Homo sapiens: one gene and its partners. The protein of the gene in region 2 interacts with the protein of the main gene of each other region in a pairwise test. Each region holds a gene or a part of one and is shown on either strand. Other genes may lie near its edges.

What was found.
Region 1: the proteins of OIP5 (region 2) and EIF4ENIF1 interact in binary tests that used the Homo sapiens proteins (3 or more experiments, as listed by UniProt).
Region 3: the proteins of OIP5 (region 2) and APBB2 interact in binary tests that used the Homo sapiens proteins (3 or more experiments, as listed by UniProt).

The regions. Positions count from the first base shown.
Region 1 is NC_000022.11:31,451,825-31,458,859, forward strand, and holds part of EIF4ENIF1 (eukaryotic translation initiation factor 4E transporter), read right to left. Parts: intron 6,827-7,035; coding exon 6,651-6,826; intron 4,164-6,650; coding exon 4,028-4,163; intron 3,492-4,027; coding exon 3,312-3,491; intron 2,553-3,311; coding exon 2,320-2,552; intron 1-2,319. UniProt on the Homo sapiens protein: EIF4E-binding protein that regulates translation and stability of mRNAs in processing bodies (P-bodies). Plays a key role in P-bodies to coordinate the storage of translationally inactive mRNAs in the cytoplasm and prevent their degradation.
Region 2 is NC_000015.10:41,315,585-41,322,619, reverse strand, and holds part of OIP5 (protein Mis18-beta), read left to right. Parts: intron 1-2,839; coding exon 2,840-2,962; intron 2,963-7,035. UniProt on the Homo sapiens protein: Required for recruitment of CENPA to centromeres and normal chromosome segregation during mitosis.
Region 3 is NC_000004.12:41,204,525-41,211,559, reverse strand, and holds part of APBB2 (amyloid beta precursor protein binding family B member 2), read left to right. Parts: intron 1-7,035. UniProt on the Homo sapiens protein: Plays a role in the maintenance of lens transparency, and may also play a role in muscle cell strength. Involved in hippocampal neurite branching and neuromuscular junction formation, as a result plays a role in spatial memory functioning.

The DNA.
Region 1 (7,035 bases), on a different chromosome or scaffold from region 2:
CCCTCCTGCATTTCAGGACATCCCTATGCCCATTTAGCTCTGTGTGAAGTGCTTTCTCTGGTGTAGTTTCCCTTCCACTAGATGGAGCTGTCAAAGTCCAAAGCAGTGTCTAGGCATGACAAATAGCTCAAGAATACCCAAGTATTTTATTGTTGATTTTGGAACTGGGACTAAAGGCAGATGATTTTATAAGTAATCTCTTTAAGAGTCATTTACTTCCATCTAATAAAAACAAATAGACAACTTTATACTGCATGGCTTATTATACTTGGAGGATAGAATCTATAATTTAAAACAGAATTTAGATTGAACCAGCATGTATTATTTTTGGATGAACCAATATGACAACCTAAATGGATGGAGGCAGATCAGAAATAGTATACAAAACATACACAGCAGTAGTAATTAAAGACACCGAATTCAAAAAGTAAACCATGACTTAACAACATGCAAATTGAGCAATATTTTGAGATAACACCTGCTATTCTTACTCCATTACTTTCCTTGTTGTATTCTTTCCTGCTAGCTGAGTTTGTCTTAGCCTTTGCCTAGCCACTTGAATGTGTCATCCATCCGTTTGGCAGGTGTTTGAGGCTCATTTGCTCAGCTAAAACCAGATACACTTCTGAGTGCTAAAACCCCAACATCAAACCAACTGCCCTTACAACTCGAGTAAATTGTGTTAATATCAAATCCTAGAATCATATCTGCAATAAAATGTGGAAAAACATCAGGTAAACTGCTGAATGCCCCCTTCCATATTTTTAGTTGCTCACACCAAAAGAAAGAAGCTAATTATAAGATATGAACCACACCATTGCAGTCAGCACCCAATCACCAAGACACAAATGTAACGAGAAAGGAAAATAGGATAGTCTACCATCTTTCAGTCTGATCTTCATTTGAAAGCATTTGTATCTAATAATTCTTTGTATAAAAGTAACTCTAAAGCAGTTTTACAGGGACATTCTCCTGCAACTGGTATGGTGTGGTCAGATACAAAGAAGTCAGTCTACCTATCTGAGGTGCCTCCTTTCAAGTGTAGGTCAGTCCTGGCACTAAGGAATAATGGAACCTCTGTCTGTCCTATTGGTCAGATAAGGAATGCTAAAAGTCAGTTGCTTTCTTTTGGTATAAGACATAATGATTCAAACAGCTATTGCTACTTGCATCTTGGCTAACTGGTAAGTTCCCAGGCAAGCAGGGAACAGGAAAAAAAGAGAGAAAACTCAATTTGGTAAATTTGCTATAACTTAGCAACTAGAATAAGTCCATGTTTATGTTTTTATTATTCATATCTACCCTGCTTCCACATTAGTTTGTATCAAGAGATAGTGATATTAACACATAGGCTATGGGTAAGAACTACCCTCTCAAAATTGTTAGGACAAAGAACCAGTATATTATAAACATTTGCATTTACAAGGTGATATGCAGTTGTGTCACCTTGTAACCTAACTTCATGCCTACAAGTTTTGTTTTTAACTTGGAGCCACAACTTTTTCCATTAGTAAATTGACAGAATGTAATTATCCTGACAAACCCATCTTACTTTTTTTTTTTTTTTTTGGAGACAGTCTCACTCTGTTGCCCAGCCTGGAGTGCAGTGGCGTGACCTCGGCTCACTGCAACTTTCATTTCCCAGGTTCAAGCAGTTCTCTTGTCTTGGCCTCCCAAGTAGCTGAGATTACAGGCGCATGCCCCCACGCCTGGCTAATTTTTATTTTTAGTAGAGATGGCGTTTCACCATGTTGGCCAGGCTGGTCTCAAACTCCTGACTTCAGGTGATCTGCCTGCCTCAGCCTCCCAAAGTGCTGGGATTACACGCGTGAGCCACTGTGCTCAGCCCCATCTTAGATACTTTACAAATGATTTGTATGACTGCAAGAATGCAGGTAATCCCTGGTATCTGGGAATAATTAGAAGATGTGAATAAAGATTTTACTATACAAATATGGTAAAGAATATGAACTTAAGTAGCTGAATAACAAGAAAATTGTCTCTGGAGTTCATCCAAAAAGATAGTTTTATACCTCATTTTAGCAGTGACTTAAAGTTATACAGGCATTACCATTAAGACTGAATCTTTTAATCTTTATACTGTCACCCACAATACATATAAATTAACCACAAGCCTGCTTTTTCCAGTAACAAATAGCATATCAATAATTAAGGAACACACAAAAGCATCAAGGACCAAATGACTACTAAAGAATTTCCAACTTACTCAGAATACCTTTTTAAAAATCCTTTTATTGTGGTGGGAAAAAGAAGAAAAAAAAAGGAGAAAAGGGTGGGGGGTTTGTGTCAGATACTTACGCTGACTTTGGGCTGAGAAGGCAAAGTCCCACTTGCCTTCATTGTGCTCACTAGCTTGTTGAACGCAGTCATGTCTCCGTCTTTCTTCAGTTGTCGATTGTTGGTTACGGCACTCAAGGTCTCTTCTAGGTGTTCTGCCATGAAGGGAGTTGAATTCTTCACTTGCTGGTCAACCTTCAAGCCCTTCAGACCTGCTTCTACCTCCTCCACTGAAAGCACAACCCCTGAATGTGCTGAGAAGTTGAGAACGTCCAGGTTAAATCAAGCAAAGAGATATCTGGTAGGAATTCTCTTTGGCTAGTATGACAGATAAGATGAAAATAATTTATTTCAAAATTGAGATGAGACTGTCAGAAAAGACTGACACCAAAAATAAACTAATAACACTTAAAATCAAATTGTGTACTAAGAGATGGCATAAACTAAACCTAAAATGTTTAGATGCTAGAAACTGGGGGACCACAACTATGAAGTGCTATTCTTTAAAACTTGACAAGCTCCTGCTGTGCATCCTGCAGAAGGATATGAGTCTTCTGGGAGACTTGTTACCTGGGACAAGAATCCCAGATAGCCCAACATTGCCAAGATTGCTGCCTGCACCGTGGTCATTATATCACTAAGTTTTTATGTTGAGAATTTATAGCCTAAGCAAGAACATGGAAGACTAGGGCAGATTTGTGAGGAAATGGTAAGTTATGCTCTGGAGGAATAAAACATTCACTGGAGTTTGTTTTCAACATTCACTGGATTATTACAACCAGACCCTAGGTAAGAACTTACAGGAAAAGTTCTCATAGGGCTCATGACCCACTGTGAGATTCTCAAAGAGGTGGTATTGTTTGATGAAATGAGTTTTTAAAAAAGAACATTAAACAAAAACCCAATATATATTTGACTTTTTATGAAACAGAGGTTATGTTAGACCCAACTGCCTGAAGACTGAACATCTAGACCTTTTCAGATATCTAAAACAGATATTCATAAACACTTACAGCTTTCTTTAAGTTTTTCTTTATTTGCAGAAAGGCTGGAAAGAAGAGGTTTCAAATCCACTTTGGCTTTCTGTAGCATTTCTAAAATATCCACTTTATTTTCAGCATGGTCTTCCAATGGTATAGGAGCAAAGTAATTCCCCGAGTTCTGTCCAGGAGAGAGGATGGCTTGCTCCAGACCTGATATTGCAAATAAACATACTCAAAATTAATCTGTTCCAGTAAAGAAACATGCCTTCGACAGTATTTTTCTTTCTTTCTTTTTTTTTTTTTTTTTCTTTGAGATGGAGTTTCGCTTTTTCGCCCAGGCTGGAGTGCAGTGGCGCAATCTCGGCTCACTGCAACCTCCGCCTGCCAGTTTCAAGCGATTCTCCTGCCTCAGCCTCCTGAGTAGCTGGGACTACAGATGCCCGCCACCACGCCTGGCTGATTTTTGTATTTTTAGTAGAGATGGGGGTTTCACCATGTTGGCCAGGCTGGTCTCAAACTCCTAACCTTGTGATCTGCCTGCCTTGGCCTCCCAAAGTGCTGGGATTACAGGCGTGAGCCACTGCACCCGGCCCCTTCAACAATATTAAAAGGACACAAATTGAAGGCTTTTCAGTTGTCCAGAGACCCTTTGACCCTAATTGACTCCTGACTAATGAAGATAAAATGAACCATATCAGGGAAAAACCCAGGTTTACCTTCAAGGGCAGAATCTGAAGCCATTTTACCTGCAAGTCTCTCTAGCTCTTCATGTGGTGTTGACCCAAGACTGCTGGATCGGCTTCCTGATCTGCTCGGGTTAGAGAACCACCTACTGAACCGACTGGCAGAGACTGACCCTTCTCCCAAAACATCTTCTATCATCTGAAGAAAAAGACAATAAAAACTAATAGTTTCTAGATGAAAAAGGACAAGAAGGTTTAAATCTTATGAAAGGGTCACTTACTTTGAAACTTCCTTTCATGCTCGTGACCTGAAGATAAATACTCTCAGAACCTAGGAATTTGAACACCTTTTTCTTCCTCCATCCTGGGTAATTTCTGAATAACCCAAACTTGAGTATAACCATCTACTTACTTTCCTTTTTTATTTTTTATTACTTTTTTTTTTTTTTTTTTGAGACAGAGTCTCGCTCTGTCACCCAGGCTGGAGTGCAGTGGCACGATCTCGGCTCACTGCAAGCTCCGCCTCCCGGGTTCACACCATTCTCCTGCCTCAGCCTCCTGAGTAGCTGGGACTACAGGCGCCTGCCACCACGCCCGGCTAATTTTTTGTATTTTTAGTAGAGACGGGGTTTTACCGTGTTAGCCAGGATGGTCTCGATCTCCTGACCTTGTGATCCGCCCGCCTTGGCCTCCCAAAGTGCTGGGATTACAAGCATGAGCCACCACACCCGGTCTACTATTTTTTTAAGACAGTCTCGCTCTGTTGCCCAGGCTGAAGTGCAGGGGTGCAATCTTGGCTCACTGCAACCTCTGCCTCCCAGGTTCAAGTGATTCTTATGCCTCAGGCTCTCGAGTAGCTGGGACTACAGGCATACGCCACCATATGCCTGGCTATTTTTAATTTTATTTTTAGTAGAGATGGGTTTTTACCATGTTGGCCAGGCTTGTCTCGAACTTCTGACCTCAAATGATCCACCTGCCTTGGCCTCCCAAAGTGCTGGGATTACAGGCATGAACCACCACTACTTTCTAAGAATATAAAGCAAAGCCTCTATGCTACAAAAAGGTTTTTGGGTTTCTATCCTTTGCCTCAGGAGTAAATCCACGTACTACCAAATGTTCTCAGAGAACAGTGTCAATGCCACAGCATTCCACTGACAAGCTGATGAGTGACCTTCAACTAAATATCAAGTATGGGGAACTGATGAAAGAAAACCATTGCTTCAAACTTAGTGGTTTCAAGGTTGTAATGAACATTATGAAATTCAATCTTGAGAGTTTCAGAAGCCAAAGGCTAAAAAAGCAGAGCTCATAAAGACTGTAATTCCAAGTCAAAGTTTAGAAAAAGTATGATTGTGGAAGATGAAATTTCAACTGATCTCTAATTTCTGTTTGAGATTAATAGAGAGTTTTCAGGTGTTTTCTGTTTCCAAATCCAACCTCCATAGTTTACATTTAATAAGGACAATTAAATAACACACTATGAACAATAAATTGCTTTGGTAGAAATTATGAAATAGTGCCAATCTTTCTTAAAAACTAGATTTAAGCATTTAAAAAATTTTTCAATTCAAATCATACCATAAATTCAGTCAAATATCCAAATTGATTTTTTGCAGTATTCTTATCAATATTTAGAAAAGACAAGATAGAGCAAACATCTATCCAAAAATCAGACATATCCTTGAAAATAAGTCATATACTTTCACGTCAATCCCACTGATAAACAGAAAACATGCTTTTTCAAAAACTGGTACATGGATGACAGAATTAGTGACTGTTTTATTTGAAATCTGGAACCCACAGTTTCCAAAGTTAAGCAGGGGAAGCTTAGATTTATTCTTTGTTCTTATCTGGAAGAATGTTTTCATAATCCATACCCAAATTAAGCCACAATATACTTCTTTTGAAGGGATTTTAATTCAAGACCCTAATTATTGTTTCCAGAATTTCTATTTTCAGAGGAATTATCTAGACAATTTCAATCACATTCCACCTGTAGATGCTCATACCTTAAATAATGCTGACTTTTAAGTGCACTAATTTTGTATTAATTAAAATATAAGATAAGCATGATACATCACTGTGAAAAATTGGGGAGTGTATCCAAAATATAAGCATCTTAGTGATAAACAGGAATTCTAAAAATAACTTTAAAAAGCCAGGTGCGGTGGCTCACGCCTGTAATCCCAGCACTTTGGGAGACCAAGACAGGAGGATCACAAGGTCAGGAGTTCAAGACCCGTCTGGCCAACATAGTGAAACCCCATCTCTACTAAAAATACAAAAATTAGCTGGGCATGGTGGCACACACCTGTGATCCCAACTACTCAGGAGGCTGAGGCAGAAGAATCGCTTGAACCCAGGAGACGGAGGTTGCAATGAGCCAAGATCGTGCCACTGCACTTCAGCCTGGGTGACAGAGTAAGATTCCAACTCAAAAAAAAAAAAACAACAAAAAAAGAATTTTTAGTCTAACACCACCAGCTTAAAAAAGAGTTAACTGGTACAAAAATCTCATATTATCCATTAAGCCTCTCAAAACAAAGCCAACAAAAATTTAAATATGTAAGAATAAAAGCCAAAAACCCCAAAAGCATCTAGCAAAACAACACTTTCAAACCGATGTCTTAAATACTCAGGTCAAATTTAACCACACATTTTTTAAGTGTGCTGCTACACTCACCGAAGCCAAGCATGGCACCTTATCAAGGTTAAAGAACTCATTAAAGTCAAAGTCTCCTGGGGACTGCTCAGGCAAGACAGCATCCCTTGGCACTTCCTGATCAGCCGCAGGCTCCTGTGCAAGGATGACCTCCACTTCATCCTCTTCGGCCACTCCTCCATTGCACTCTACTATACCTGAAAGCAAAACCAGGACAAAAACCGTCTGATAAGTAAATCACTCCAGTGTCCCTCTGTGGCTTCAGCCATCAGTATACATGTAGAAGAGCCACACATGACTTAAAAAGCAGACTTCTCGTGCAGGTACTGTACTTGCAAGAATAAAACAGTCCCCCTTCTACGGGAGGCAGAAAAGGAAAAAAGCCTTAATAAAGCTAGAATACCAA
Region 2 (7,035 bases):
TAGAATTCTCCTAGCCTGGGAAACAAAGTAAGACCCCATTTCTGCCAAAAAAAAAATTAGTAGGGCATGGTAGCATGCACCTGTAGTCCCAGCTTTGGGAAGCTGAGGCAGGTAGATCAGTTGAGCCCAGGAATTCAAGGCTGCAGTGAGCTATGATTGTATCACTACGTTCTAACCTGGGCGACAGAGCAAGAACTTGTCTCAAAAAAAAACCAAAAAAAACTTCATACTATATATTAATACAATTTATTTTTCCTTTACCAAACCACTTTAAAATTGCTTTTAGCACATGCATGATGAAATATTTTCTTAAAGTGCTTTTCTTGTAAAACATTTATTTATTTTTTAAGACGGGGTATTACCATGTTGCCTAGGCTGCTCTCGAATTCCTGGGCTCAAGCTATCTGCCCACTTTGGCCTCTCATAGTGCTGGGATTACAGTAGGTGTGAACCACTGTGCCTGACCAAAATGTTTCTTTCTAATATTTAAATATGTCTTATATACCAGCAAATATGATGACTTGCTCAAGAATTGTAATGAGAGCTAAAATCAACATCTGACTCTTCATCAGTAATCTTTTCAGAGGATAAGGAAAACAAAATAGATGGCTTGCTAGGGTAATAGGATTCCCTTTTCTTTCTCTTTTAGTCTGCGCATTTTTTTCTTTTTTATTTATTTATTTATTTATTTATTTTTTTATTGATCATTCTTGGGTGTTTCTCGCAGAGGGGGATTTGGCAGGGTCATAGGACAATAGTGGAGGGAAGGTCAGCAGATAAACAAGTGAACAAAGGTCTCTGGTTTTCCTAGGCAGAGGACCCTGCGGCCTTCCGCAGTGTTTGTGTCCCTGGGTACTTGAGATTAGGGAGTGGTGATGACTCTTAAGGAGCATGCTGCCTTCAAGCATCTGTTTAACAAAGCACATCTTGCACCGCCCTTAATCCATTTAACCCTGAGTGGACACAGCACATGTTTCAGAGAGCACAGGATTGGGGGTAAGGTCATAGATCAACAGGATCCCAAGGCAGAAGAATTTTTCTTAGTACAGAACAAAATGAAAAGTCTCCCATGTCTACTTCTTTCTACACAGACACAGCAGCCATCCGATTTCTCAATCTTTTCCCCACCTTTCCCCCTTTTCTATTCCACAAAACTGCCATTGTCATCATGGCCCATTCTCAATGAGCTGTTGGGTACACCTCCCAGACAGGGTGGTGGCCGGGCAGAGGGGCTCCTCACTTCCCAGTAGGGGCGGCCGGGCAGAGGCGCCCATCACCTCGCGGACGGGGCGGCTGGCCGGGCGGGGGGCTGACCCCCCCACCTCCCTCCAGGACGGGACGGCTGGCCGGGCGGGGGGCTGGACCACCCCACCTCCCTCCCGGACGGGGCGGCTGGCCGGGCGGGGGGCTGACCCCCCCACCTCCCTCCTGGACGGGGCGGCTGGCTGGGCGGGGGGCTGACCCCCCACCTCCCTCCCCGACAGGGTGGCTGCCGGGCGGAGACGCTCCTCACTTCCCAGATGGGGTGGCTGCCGGGCGGAGGGGCTCCTCACTTCTCAGACAGGGAGGCTGCCGGGCGGAGGGTCTCCTCACTTCTCAAGATGGGGCAGCCGGGCAGAGACGCTCCTCACCTCCCAGGCAGGGTCGCGGCCGGGCAGAGGCGCTCCTCACATCCCAGACGGGGCGGCAGGGCAGAGGCGTTCCCCACATCTCAGACCATGGGAGGCCGGGCAGAGACGCTCCTCACTTCCTAGATGGGATGGCGGCCGGGAAGAGGCGCTCCTCACTTCCTAGATGGGATGGCGGGCGGGCAGAGACGCTCCTCACTTTCCAGACTGGGCAGCCAGGCAGAGGGGCTCCTCACATCCCAGACGATGGGTGGCCAGGCAGAGACGCTCCTCACTTCCCAGACGGGGTGGCGGCTGGGCAGAGGCTGTAATCTCGGCACTTTGGGAGGCCAAGGCAGGCGGCTGGGAGGTGGAGGTTGTAGCGAGCCAAGATCATGCCACTGCACTCCAGCCTGGGCACCATTGAGCACTGAGTGAACGAGACGAGACTCCGTCTGCAATCCCGGCACCCTGGGAGGCCGAGGCTGGTGGATCACTCGCGGTTAGGAGCTGGAGACCAGCCCAGCCAACACAGCGAAACCCCGTCTCCACCAAAAAAATATGAAAACCTGTCAAGTGTGGCGGCGCGTGCCTGCAATCGCAGGCACTCGGCAGGCTGAGGCAGGAGAATCAGGCAGGGAGGTTGCAGTGAGCCGAGATGGCAGCAGTACAGTCCAGCTTTGGCTTGGCATCAGAGGGAGACCGTGGAAAGAGAGGGAGAGGGAGACCGTGGGGAGAGGAGGGAGAGGGAGAGGGCGCATTTTTTTCATTAACTTTCTTTTTTAATATAAGCAAAAGACAAACCTTGATTTTAGTTCTATGAACAATTTGTTTAGTAAGGCCCCAGTCAACTTGATTATTTTTCAACAACTGTGAATTTATATAATGATAGCCATTTTACATGATTTGTAGTTTTAAATGTTTAAATGTTAATCAGATTAGTTAGCTCTTTTTGTGTTTATTAGGGGTAAATTACCTTTCTCTTCTGAAGCGACAATTATACATCCATGATTGCTTTGACCAGAATATACGAGGGTATCCGCAATCCAGCATGTAATTAAATTACAATCTGAGTTACCCTTTCTTGAATGTGACATTCTTTCCGTCTCATTCCTATTACAATGTAATTTTCACCCTGACTTAGGTGTTAGGAATGCTTCAGAGACTAGTTATTTTTTATTTCTTATATGATTTTTTATTCTTACCCATATTGTGTTTTTCCCCACCCCTAGTACTTACAACCTTTTATTCTGTGGTTCTTGTGGGATTCCCGTTGGTTTCCATCTGTATTCTACCCATGCTGCCCTGGCTGCCTTGAGAGGTCACTTCTGCCTTTCCAGTGACAAAATGGTGTGGTGAGTAGACTTAGATATTGATCATCAAATACATTTTATTTTATTTATTTTGAGACAAAGTCCATCAAATAAATTTTAAAAGGTTTTTCAGGAAAGACAAAGTAGGCTGAGCACAGTGGCTTATGCCTGTAATCCCAGCACTTTAGGAGGCTGAGGCGGTGGATCACTCGAGGTCAGGAGTTTGAGACCAGCCTGGCTAACATGGTGAAACCCATCTCTACGAAAAATACAAAAATTAGCCAGGTGTAGTGGTAGACGCCTGTAATCCCAGCTACTCAGGAGGCTGAGGCACGAGAATTGTTGGAACCTGGGAGGCAGAGGCTGCAGTGAGCTGAGATCACGCCACTGTGAGATCACGCCACTGCACTCCAGCCTGGGAGACATAGTGAGATTCTGTCCAAAGGAAAAAAAAAAAAAAGTAGCTGGGCATGCTAGTGCACACCTGTAATCCCAGCTACTTGGGAGGCTGCGGCAAGAGAATTGCTTCAACCTGAGAGGTGGAGGTTGCACAGTGAGCTGAGATTGCACCACTACACTCCAGCCTGGGTGACAGAACAAGACTCTGTCTCAAAAAAAAAAAAAAGAAAAAAGACAAAGTGTTTGTACCAAAAAGATGCTAAAGTCAGGCACTGTCTTTGACAAAAAGATAGCAGTGGGCCAGGTGTGATGGCTCGCGCCTGTAATGCCAATGCTTTGTGAGGCCAAGGTGGGAGGACTGCTTGAGGGCAGGAGTTCAAGACCTCCATGGGCAATATAGTGAGACTCCTGTTTTTTTTTTATACAAAATTTTAAAAAATTAGCTGGATGTGGCGGCGTGCCCCTATAGTCCCAGTTACTTGGGAGGCTGAGGTGGGAGGATCACCTGAGCCCAGGAGTTCAAGGTTACATTTTGCTGTGATCATACCACTGCATTCCACTTTGGGTGACAAAAAAAAAAAAAAGCAGTGGGACCAAAATATAATCTTATAACATTATGATTATCTTCCATGTCTTATCATACCATATCTTAAAAGTCATACCATGGGAAAATTCAGAGGGTATTCTTTCATTAAAGAAACTTGTTGCCAGATGTGGTGGTGTGTGCCTGTAATTCTAGCTACCCAGGAGGCTGAGGCAGGAGGATCACTTGAATCTTGGTGTTTGAGACCAGCCTAGGCAACATGGTGAAGCCTCCCATCTCAAACTGCTCCCTTATGGGCCGGGTGCAGTGGCTCACGCCTGTAATCCCAGCACTTTGGGAGGCTGAGGTCGGGGGTTCACCTGAGGTCAGGAGTTCGAGACCAGCTTGGCCAACATGGTGGAACCCCATCTCCATTTAAAATACGAAAATAAGCCAAGTGTGGTGGCACACGCCTGTGGTCGCAGCTACTCGGGAGGTGAGGCAGAAGAATTGCTTGAACCCAGGAGGCGGAGGTTGCAGTGAGCCAAGATCAAGCCACTGCACTTCAGCCTGGGTGACAGAGCTAGACTCTGTCTCAGAAAAAATAAAAATAAATAAAAGATAAAAAGAACATTCTAGAAGGCAAGCTTTTGCAAAATAATGTTGCAGTAGATACCTTTTGGGTTTGTGCCCAGCCTCTCTCTCCCTCTAATAGGTGGGGCCTTGTATATTTGTATCATGTGTGATTTGTATCATGTGTGATTCCCACTCCCAGGTACTGGATCAAGAATGAATACCTGGCCAGGCATGGTGGGTCATGCCTGTAATCTCAGCACTTTGGAAGGCTGAGTTGGAGGATTGTTTGAGCTTAGGAGTTTGAGACCAGCCTAGGCAACATAGCAAGACTCTGTCTCTACAAAAAATTTAAAATATTAACTGTGTATGGTGGTGTATGCCTGTAGTCCTAGCTACTCTGGAGGCTAAGGTGGGAGGATAGCTACAGCCCAGGAGTTCAAGGTTACAGTGAGCTATGATTGTGTCACTGTATTCTAGCATGGGGAGCAGAGCAAGACCCTGTCTCTTAAAAACCAAAAACGGTGCTGGGCGTGGTAGCTCACGCCTGTAACCCCAGTACTTTGGGAGGCCGAGGTGGGCAGATCATGAGGTCAGGAGATCGAGATCATCCTGGCCAACATGGGAAACCCCGTCTCTACTAAAAATACAAAAAAAATTAGCTGGGCATGGTGGCGCATGCCTGTAATCCTAGCTACTTGGGAGGCTGAGGCAGGAGAATCACTTGAACCGGGGAGTCAGAGGTTGCAGTGAACCAAGATCGCGCCACTGCACTCCAGCCTGGCAACAGAGCGAGACTCTGTCTCAAAAAAAAAAAAAAAAAGAAAAATGGATACCTGACCCAAACTAAGCCAACCAGTTTTCTACCTTAGGAATTTGAAACAAGGGCCCAGAAATACCAGTTACGTGTAGATAGTACTAGTGTTGAAGTTTGGAAGTGAAAGCTCTATGTATGGGATAGCTATTTCCCATGTGATGCATGTAGCTGCAGGGAAGTCTTCTCTGCAGTAAAACATGAAGCAGACACAGAGAAAAGTAAAAATAATGATCATGTAGCCTCATAGTGTCAGAAAAACTACCCTACTGGTTATCCTTTCTCATGAATTACATTGGCTATTTCATTATTTTCCTAATAAATTGCACTTTTAACTTAAGCTTTTTTACTTATTACAAGAAACTGAAACATCCTTAGAAGTCTTTCCTTGACCATTAAAAAACAAAAACAAGCATTGACAACCTAGTTTATGTAGGCATTATGCTTATATCACTGAGTTCTTAATATAGTTTAAGAAAACTAGGGCTCAAAGAGGTGGAAGAGCTGAGATTTGAGCATGTCTTAACTCAAAAGCTTATTTTCCTTTCATAAAACTAAAAGGTTTCCTTTTTCTCATGTCTTTTTTTTTTTTTTTTTTTTTGAGATGGAGTCTTGCTGTGGCGCCCAGGCTGGAGTGCAGTGACGTGATCTTGGTTCACTGTAAGCTTCACCCCCTGGGTTCACACCATTCTCCTGCCTCAGCCTCCCAAGTAGCTGGAACTACAGGCGCCCACCACCACGCTTGGCTAATTTTTTGTATTTTTAGTAGAGACGGGGTTTCACTGTGTTAGCCAGGATGGTCTCGATCTCCTTGACCTCGTGATCCGCCCGCCTTGGCCTCCTAAGGTGCTGGGATTACAGGCATGAGCCACCGCGCCCGGCCGCTTTTTCTCATTTCTTATGCTTAGATAGATGTTTTTAGCTGAGTTATGGTTGACTAAACAATAAAACTTATCAGCCAGTCCTTTACCATGGGTTGCTCACTGTGCATTAGGTATACCATTTGTTCTTCATTGCAAATTTCCAACACAAAATATATACCTGAGATCCTGAGATGGATTGATCATTCTCTTTTTTTAAAGACGGAGTCTCACTCTGTCACCCAGGCTGGAAGTGCAATGGCATGATCTCAGCTCACTGCAACCTGCACCTCCTGGGTTCAAGTGATTCTCCTGCCTGGGCTTCCCAAAATGTTAAGATTACAGGCATTAATCACCATGCCCAGCCTCAATTTTTAGATTCTTTTTTTTTTTCTTTGAGACGGAGTCTTGCTCTTTCGCCCAGGCTGGAGCTGGAGTGCAGTGGCACCATCTCGGCTCACTGCAAGCTCCGCCTCCCAGGTTCACGCCATTGTCCTGCCTCAGCCTCCCGAGTAGCTGGGACTACAGGCGCCCGCCACCATGTCTGGCTAATTTTTTTGTATTTTTAGTAGAGACGGGGTTTTACCGTGTTAGCCAGCATGGTCTTGATCTCCTGCCTTGGCCACCTAAAGTGCTGGGATTACAGGTGTGAGCCACTGCGCCACCAATTTCTAGATTCTTAAGCAATTTCTATTTAGAATTAACTTTAAAGTGGGAAAAAAAACTGTAAATGTGTGCTGTTAGTAATCCCACATCTTTTTTAGAAATCAGTACAAAAGTAAATGTTCTAGAGAAGCAATAATTGCATTTTTGTTAGGGCAGTAAGCTTTTAGTAACATATTTTTAACATAAATTTGAAAAGCATTATGGGATTTTGGTTAATTTCTTAATCTTTAAAATGAGTTGGATAAAAGGTCAGGACATTCTTTTTGATTAAGTAGAAACT
Region 3 (7,035 bases), on a different chromosome or scaffold from region 2:
AGTGAGCCAAGATCGCGCCACTGCACTCCAGCCTGGGCAAAAGGGTGAGACTCCGTCTCAAAATAAATACATAAATAAAATAAATAAATAAGTAAATAAATAACAAAACAAAACTGGACAATACCCTTGTGATATAACACCTTAAGTTTTCCGGGGGCGGGGGAGGGGAGCAGGTGGGACAGACTTTTAGGAAAATATTGTAATAAGTTATTACTGGTTATGGGGGGAATACTTATTTTCCTACATGGGGTTAGGAAACCAGCATTTGTTCAGTGCCTAGTATTATTATTATTATTATTATTTTTGAGACAGAGTTTCAGTCTGTCACCCAGGCTGGAGTGTAGTGGCGCGATCTTGGCTCACTGTAACCTCCACCTCCCAGGTTCAAGTAATTCTCCTGCCTCAGCCTCCTGAGTAGCTGGGATTCCAGGTGCCCGCCACCACGCCTGGCTAATTTTTGTAATTTTAGTAGAAATGGGGTTTCACCATGTTGGCCAGGCTGGTCTCCAAGTCCTGACCTCAGGAGGTCCACCAGTCTCGGTCTCCCAAAGTGCTGGGATTACAGGCGTGAGCCATCACGCCTGGTCTGTTCAGTGCTTTTTATGTGTCCTATTATCCTATTAAGGTTTTGTATATATCATCTTATGCTGTAAGCATCTATGCATAAATGTCAGCTGTCTAAGAAAACCCCTCTGAAAAGGTAGATGCTCGTGATTTCACAGCAATAGAGCTTTAAACTTTTATCTTATATGAAAATATCTTTAATTGATTCCATTATTATTCAGTAAGCATTCTCTTTTAAAGCATCTTTGATTTGTTATTTAGAATTAAATTTGATTGGAACTGCATATCTTCAGAATGATTTGAATGTTTTCAAGAAGGTTCTATCCAGATTTTAAAACTGTTTTGTGTTCATTTATTTTCAATAATGTTGCACTACCAACAAATGAAATTAGATGTCAGAAGATAAACCCAGATTAGCCATTTTGATTTTAATGTGTTATTAGTGCATATTCTGCATGCTGATATGTGTTGACGGCATTTCTCTCAGCCGAAATGGTTTGTCAGAGGCAGAGTAACAGACTCTCCATAATAAAGGGTCTGGGGGGATTTGGAGGAAAGACTACTAACCAGGGACCCCAAAGACTTGCCTTTGGGGCTGGCTTGTCCCTTACTTCAATTCACTGTGTTACCTGGAAAAAGTCAGTTATGTCTCTGGGCCTGTTTTCCCATCTGTAAAATGAGAGAGCTGCAGTCACCCTCTGGTTGTCTATCGGGTCCTTCTTGTCCCAGTCTAGAGATCTGTGATGCAGCCATTCGAGGAGAGAGGTCTTCGTTTAAGAGCAGGGGTCCCCAGCCCCCTGCTTCGGACCTGAACTGGTCAGTGGCCTATTAGGAACCGGGCCATAGAGCAGGAGGTGAGCGGCGGGCAAGTGACCTTTACCACCTGAGCTCCACCTCTGTCAGATCAGTGGTGGCATTTGATTCTCACAGGACTGTGAACCCTGTTGTGAACTGCACATGTGTGGGATCTTGGTTGTGCACTCCCTATGAGAATCTACTGCTTGTTGATCTGAGTTGGAACAGTTTCATCCCAATCCCCAACCCCATCCGTGGAAAAATTGTCTTCCATGAACGCTGTCTGGAGACCACTGGTTTAGAGCATTATTTGGAGGTGATTTTGTGTTTCCCTGTCTGGTTTGTCACTGCTTTGTCCAATGCCCTTCTTTTTTTGCCCAATTCCTACTTCCCTTATAGTTTTCATTTGTTATAAAATGGTTGTCATAAAATTAACTTTATGGCCCTGCCAGTCTAGTTAGCAGATAAGGTAATGATTAGATTTGGGTAAAGTGTATTCGACATTTGAAACTACTTCATAGCATTTTCTGCGGGGAGACTTTCTGCTCTTGAGCACACAGATAGTCTGAGAAAGAAACCTCTACCTAGGCTGCAGGGGAGGGGGTCCTGTGCTTTGCTTCCCAGGCCCACCCTTGTGAAATTTTGGCAAGCCTTTCCTGTGTCCCAGCCTTTGTCTCCTCGCCTCGATGAGAAATGCAGCCCTTGGTCTCTGGAATACGACTTTCACTCTCATTTGACGTTAGCCCTGTCACTGTGTTGGACAGATGCCTGTGATTGGCTGCTGCAGTAGCAGGAGTGGTGGCTGGTGAAATGTGTCTACTCAGTGTCATTAGCAGGATCATGAGCTTTTTTTTCTTTTTTCTTGGCAAGCTGCGATGGGGCAGAGAGCAAAGGAAACCAATCCCATTTGGTGTTTTTAGTGCATTTTGCTTTCAAGAGGCTCACAAAACTCAGCCTCATTAACCTTTAAGTGAGTCAGTGAGGAGTTGTTATCCCATTGAAATAATTTTTAATAAAGGGAGAGTGACTCTAGTTCCTCTAATAACCAGGCTCCAGGGTTCCTGGACCCCTGTTAGGAGTGGGTCATTAACTCCAGACATTAGATGAGAGCTGGGAGAGAGGAAGGGCATAGAGGGTGGAAGGTCAAGTCACACAACTGGGCAGGAAGTAAGAAGCTTGATCAGTTTAAAGGTATTAGAGCTCTTTGTGTGTAGAGTTACAGGAGATATTCCCTTTCTATATAATTTATTTCCATGGTGTTTGAATCTTATCTTGTTTTCTGTAATGGACGTATATTTATTTTATAATCAGAGAAAAATCCCAATATATAATTTATTGATATATAAAATGTACAGATTCACATGGACAAATACGAGAAGAGAACATGGAAAGAAATGAATGGTATAGAAAAGGATGGATTAAAGCTTTTCTTTGTTGTTGGTTAATGACTTGACAGTGGTTATAAACAAAGTTTACCAGTTCTACCCTCTCTTTTCCTCTTGTGGAAATCTTGCAAACTTTGTTTGCTAGGTAATAACTGAAGTTCCCGAAGTGTAACTCATTGGCAAGTATGCTTCAGGAATGCTTAGAGTGGGAGGAAGAGTGTCGTTTTTTTTAAGTTGATGAAAAAGAATGCAGAAACCGGGAGCAGTGGCTCATGCCTGTAATCCTAGCACTTTCGGAGGCCAAGGCAGGTGGCTCACTTGAGGTCGGGAGTTTGAGACCAGCCTGGCCAACATGGTGAAACCCCGTCTCTGCTAAAAATACAAAAATTAGCCGGGCATGGTGGCACACGCCTGTAATTTCAGCTACTCAGGAGGCTGAGGCAGGAGAATCGCTTGAACCCAGGAGGTGGAGGTTGCTGTGAGCTGAGACCGCGCCACTGCACTCCAGCCTGGGTGAAAGGGCGAGACTCTGTCTCAAAAAAAAGAATGCAGAATATTGGAATCGAGGTAGAAGGAAAAACGTGTGTTTAAGAGGGTGAGATAGATTGGAGAGACTTTGCGGAATTCCAGAGGGTAAAGGGAAATGCCATTGTTGAAGAAGGAAGGCCTGGCATTACTGGAGGTATGGGATGTGTCCCTGTCGTGTAAGTCAGAGCTCAGTTTCCACACAATATAAAAGTAAATGAGTATCTCCTATATGCAGAGCATAATGTTAGCCCCACAGGTCATTTATTGTTGGTTAGTGGTTTTCACTGTTCTTATCACAATGATGATAATGATGTAGTGAATATGTCATAATTGTTCAAATAAGAAGATATGTCCTTTTCTCTGATACTATGCCTTTCTCATTTTTGGGTAAGATTCTTTTATGATTTGATAGGAATATTTTTATCTAGCCGCTGAATGGTCCATGAAATTGGTAAGTCTGGGAATCTGGGCCTGAGATGCAGGGAGGCCTGCCCTTGGGATTGAGTTGAGTCATGGAGGCCAGGCCAACATGTGGAGTTTGTGGGTCAGCTGATGGGGCCCCTGGGCTTTCCAGGAATATAGAGTCACCCAAGGTCCTAGGAACTGTGAATGAGCTAATTTTGAAAGTGCCCTAGGAGCCAGTGACTATTTTTGAATTATAGCTTGAGAATGACAAGGAAAGCACCAAGATGAAAGATGAGGGTGTAAGGGAACAGAATGGGCAAGTGGTTGAAGTGTGAATTTCAGCAGGTGAACCTCAAGATGTATCTTGACATTTGATTCTTTGCATGCAGGCCTCTTTCTGGCAAAACAACACTCTTTAGCAATTCTTAGTTAGTGATTCTAGGAAATGGTGATGGGTGAAAGCCATAGAACCTAGAATTGTGTAATAGCCAGCTTGGCCCAGACCTCTGCAGTATCATTCCCTCCAGGGTGAGCCTTGAATTGCTGGAGGAAGCTTCAGAATGATTTGCTCATGGAATTGCTGTTATTCACCTTTAGTTTTGGTTGCTATTGTGGGGTGAAGAAGGAGTGTCAAAACAATAACAACAAATTATTTCCTTTTTTTTTTTTTTTTTTTTTTTTTTTGAGACGGAGTCTCACTTGGTCGCCCAGGCTGGAATGCAGTGGCTTAATCTCGGCTCACTGCAACCTCCACCTTCCAGGTTCAAGCAGTTTTCCTGCCTCAGCTACCCAAGTAGTTGGAACTACAGGTGCCCGCCACTGTATCCGGCTAATTTTTGTATTTTTAGTAGAGGCTGGGGTTTCACCACTTTGGCCAAGCAGGTCTCGAACTCCTGACCTCAAGTGATCTGCCCGCCTCAGCCTCTCAAAGTGCTGGGATTACAGGTATGGGTCCTCTCCCTGGCAGCATCCTGCTTGCTCTTTGGTGCTGGCTCTGTTCTTACCTTCTGATCTTCCTTCTGTTTCTCAGGTAGACTTCTGTCCTGGGCAAGAGTCGACCTGCCACATTGAGTATCACAATTTGCTAGGTGGTATTGTTTGTCAGTGGAAGTGAATAAATCAGAATTTCCTTAGCATGAGTTAGGTTTCTTGAGTTGTTTCATTCCTGGGGGAACTAATACCGTTAAAATTTCCTTGACATTTCAAGAAATGATCATATACCACATTGCAAATTTTGAACACAGCAGAGGCATGATTTGGGTGTAGAGACACCTTGGGAAGCATTGATTCAGACTCAGATTCTTCAGATTATCTGATCAGAACCTCTTGTCCTCTCCAAGAACCAAGGTCTGTGTATACCTTTTCCAGGACACTGGTGAAGAGAGACATTCATTTGGTGACATCCAGAAACCTCGGCTTCATTTGTTCCTTCCTTTGTTCAGCAAATGCTTATTGAGTACATAGTTTGTGCCTGGCACTGTGCTAAGTTCAGGAGGACAGAGAGGAATGTACCAGAACATTGGTTATAGGGTGCTGCAGTAGAGGCATGTGTGTGATGGGAGTGGAGGGGAAGGAAGGCTGTCCTAATCCTGCGAGAGTGGCAAGAGCTGTGGCTAGTGACTCCTCATGTAAAATTCCCACTACAGCAAACCCTTCAGCTGCTTCCTTTGTCATCTTTCCTTAACTCAATTTTATTCCTGCCTACCACCCAGGATTTGCTACTCCTTTTGTAAGGGAACTCGGGATTTGGCCTTTCAAATCTCTGTGGCAGTAGTTCTTAAGCAGGACAGTTTTGCTCACTGGGGAACATTTGGCAGTGACATTTTGGTCATGGTGACTGTGGAGGGATAACTACTGGCATCTAGTAGGAAGAGGCTAAGAATGCTACTAAATATCCTACAACATGTGCAAGGATAGCCCTAGAAGGAGGCAGCAGGGGTTTAGTGGTCAAGTCCCAGTGCTGCTCTGCAATTTAATAGCCATATGACAAAGGGCAACAGAATTGTACTTTGACAACAGAATTACACAGTGCTCAGTTTGCTCATCTGCAAATAGGAATACTAATTGTGCTTATATAATATGATTGTTGTGAAGATTTCATCAGTGAATGTATAAGGGCAGAGAACAATACTTGATGTGAGATAAGACCTTACTTAACGAGTATTTTTATTTTTAGTTTTAAACAAAAACTTTACCTTTTGACTCTAAAGAGCTTGAGTTTAGAGTATCCAGGGCAGTTGAGCTTGTAGCCCTACCTGTAAGTATGCTTTGGTGTAGGAAATGGCCATAGTTTTTGTGTTTTTCTAGTTCCTTTTTGTCCGTTGGCTTTATTTCCCATTGTCTCATCTCTTGAGATTTTTAATAGCTTTGCCTTTCATCCCTTTTTTCCCAGGGACCCAAATTTATGCCCTTAATGAGCTTTTCCCTAGAGGGCTGAGAATTATATTTATGATTTTCCTTAGCTCTGTCTATTTTGGGAATGGTGAGAAAATGGGAAGCGGGTCAGGGGAGATGTTGCATTACTTCCTGATTGCCATAGCTCCCTTCTCTGTAAAATCCCGTGAAGGATTGAGAGGCAGGTGGTAGTGCTTGCTTAGTAACTCTTCCCTTTACACCCACCAGCTCCACTCCCAAGTTGGGTGCCTACTACTTCCAAAATACCCCGTAATTGGGTCACAACATTATCTGCCTGCTTGGAATCATATTTAAAAATCAAAGCAAAGATGCAGACTATGTCAGCAGGATTTGAAATGTTTCCATCCTCTGCTTTGAGGCTTTGCAGAATTATTCTGAAAACAAAAGAAGGTAAACTTGTTATCCCAATGAGGTGGCAGTTTCTATGTGGCCTAGAATTATGCCTAATTTTTGCTTGTAAAAGGGCTCAAACCATGATCCTTTCTGACTTTCCACAGGGATGTGAGCTTTTGTGGACATCACTCAACAGATCAGATTTACTGTTGAATTTTCATAACATAATTGACTTGGAAAGCATTTCATTCAGTGTTTTGAATGGTGACTAGAGAGAAATTAAGAAGCTCAGTTGTTATATCTTTCGAATTCCTTTCCCATGACACAGTCATCTCTCCCCTGAATGAGAGCAGTGGCCTCCTGGCTTATCCAGCTCTGTTCACTCAGTTTGGCTTCCCAAGTGCTGGGCACTGTTCCAGATGCCACACGTGGACACTGACCAGGATGGCCACTGCCTCTACCTGCTCGGAGCTCTGGGTCTATAGAGAAAGGCTGACAGCTAAGGAATGAATGACGGTACTATGTGATACGTATTACTGGGAGAAATACTCAGTGCTTCCCAGACGAGCACTTATCCTGCTTGGGTGTGGGGAGTGTGTGGGGCAAAGCT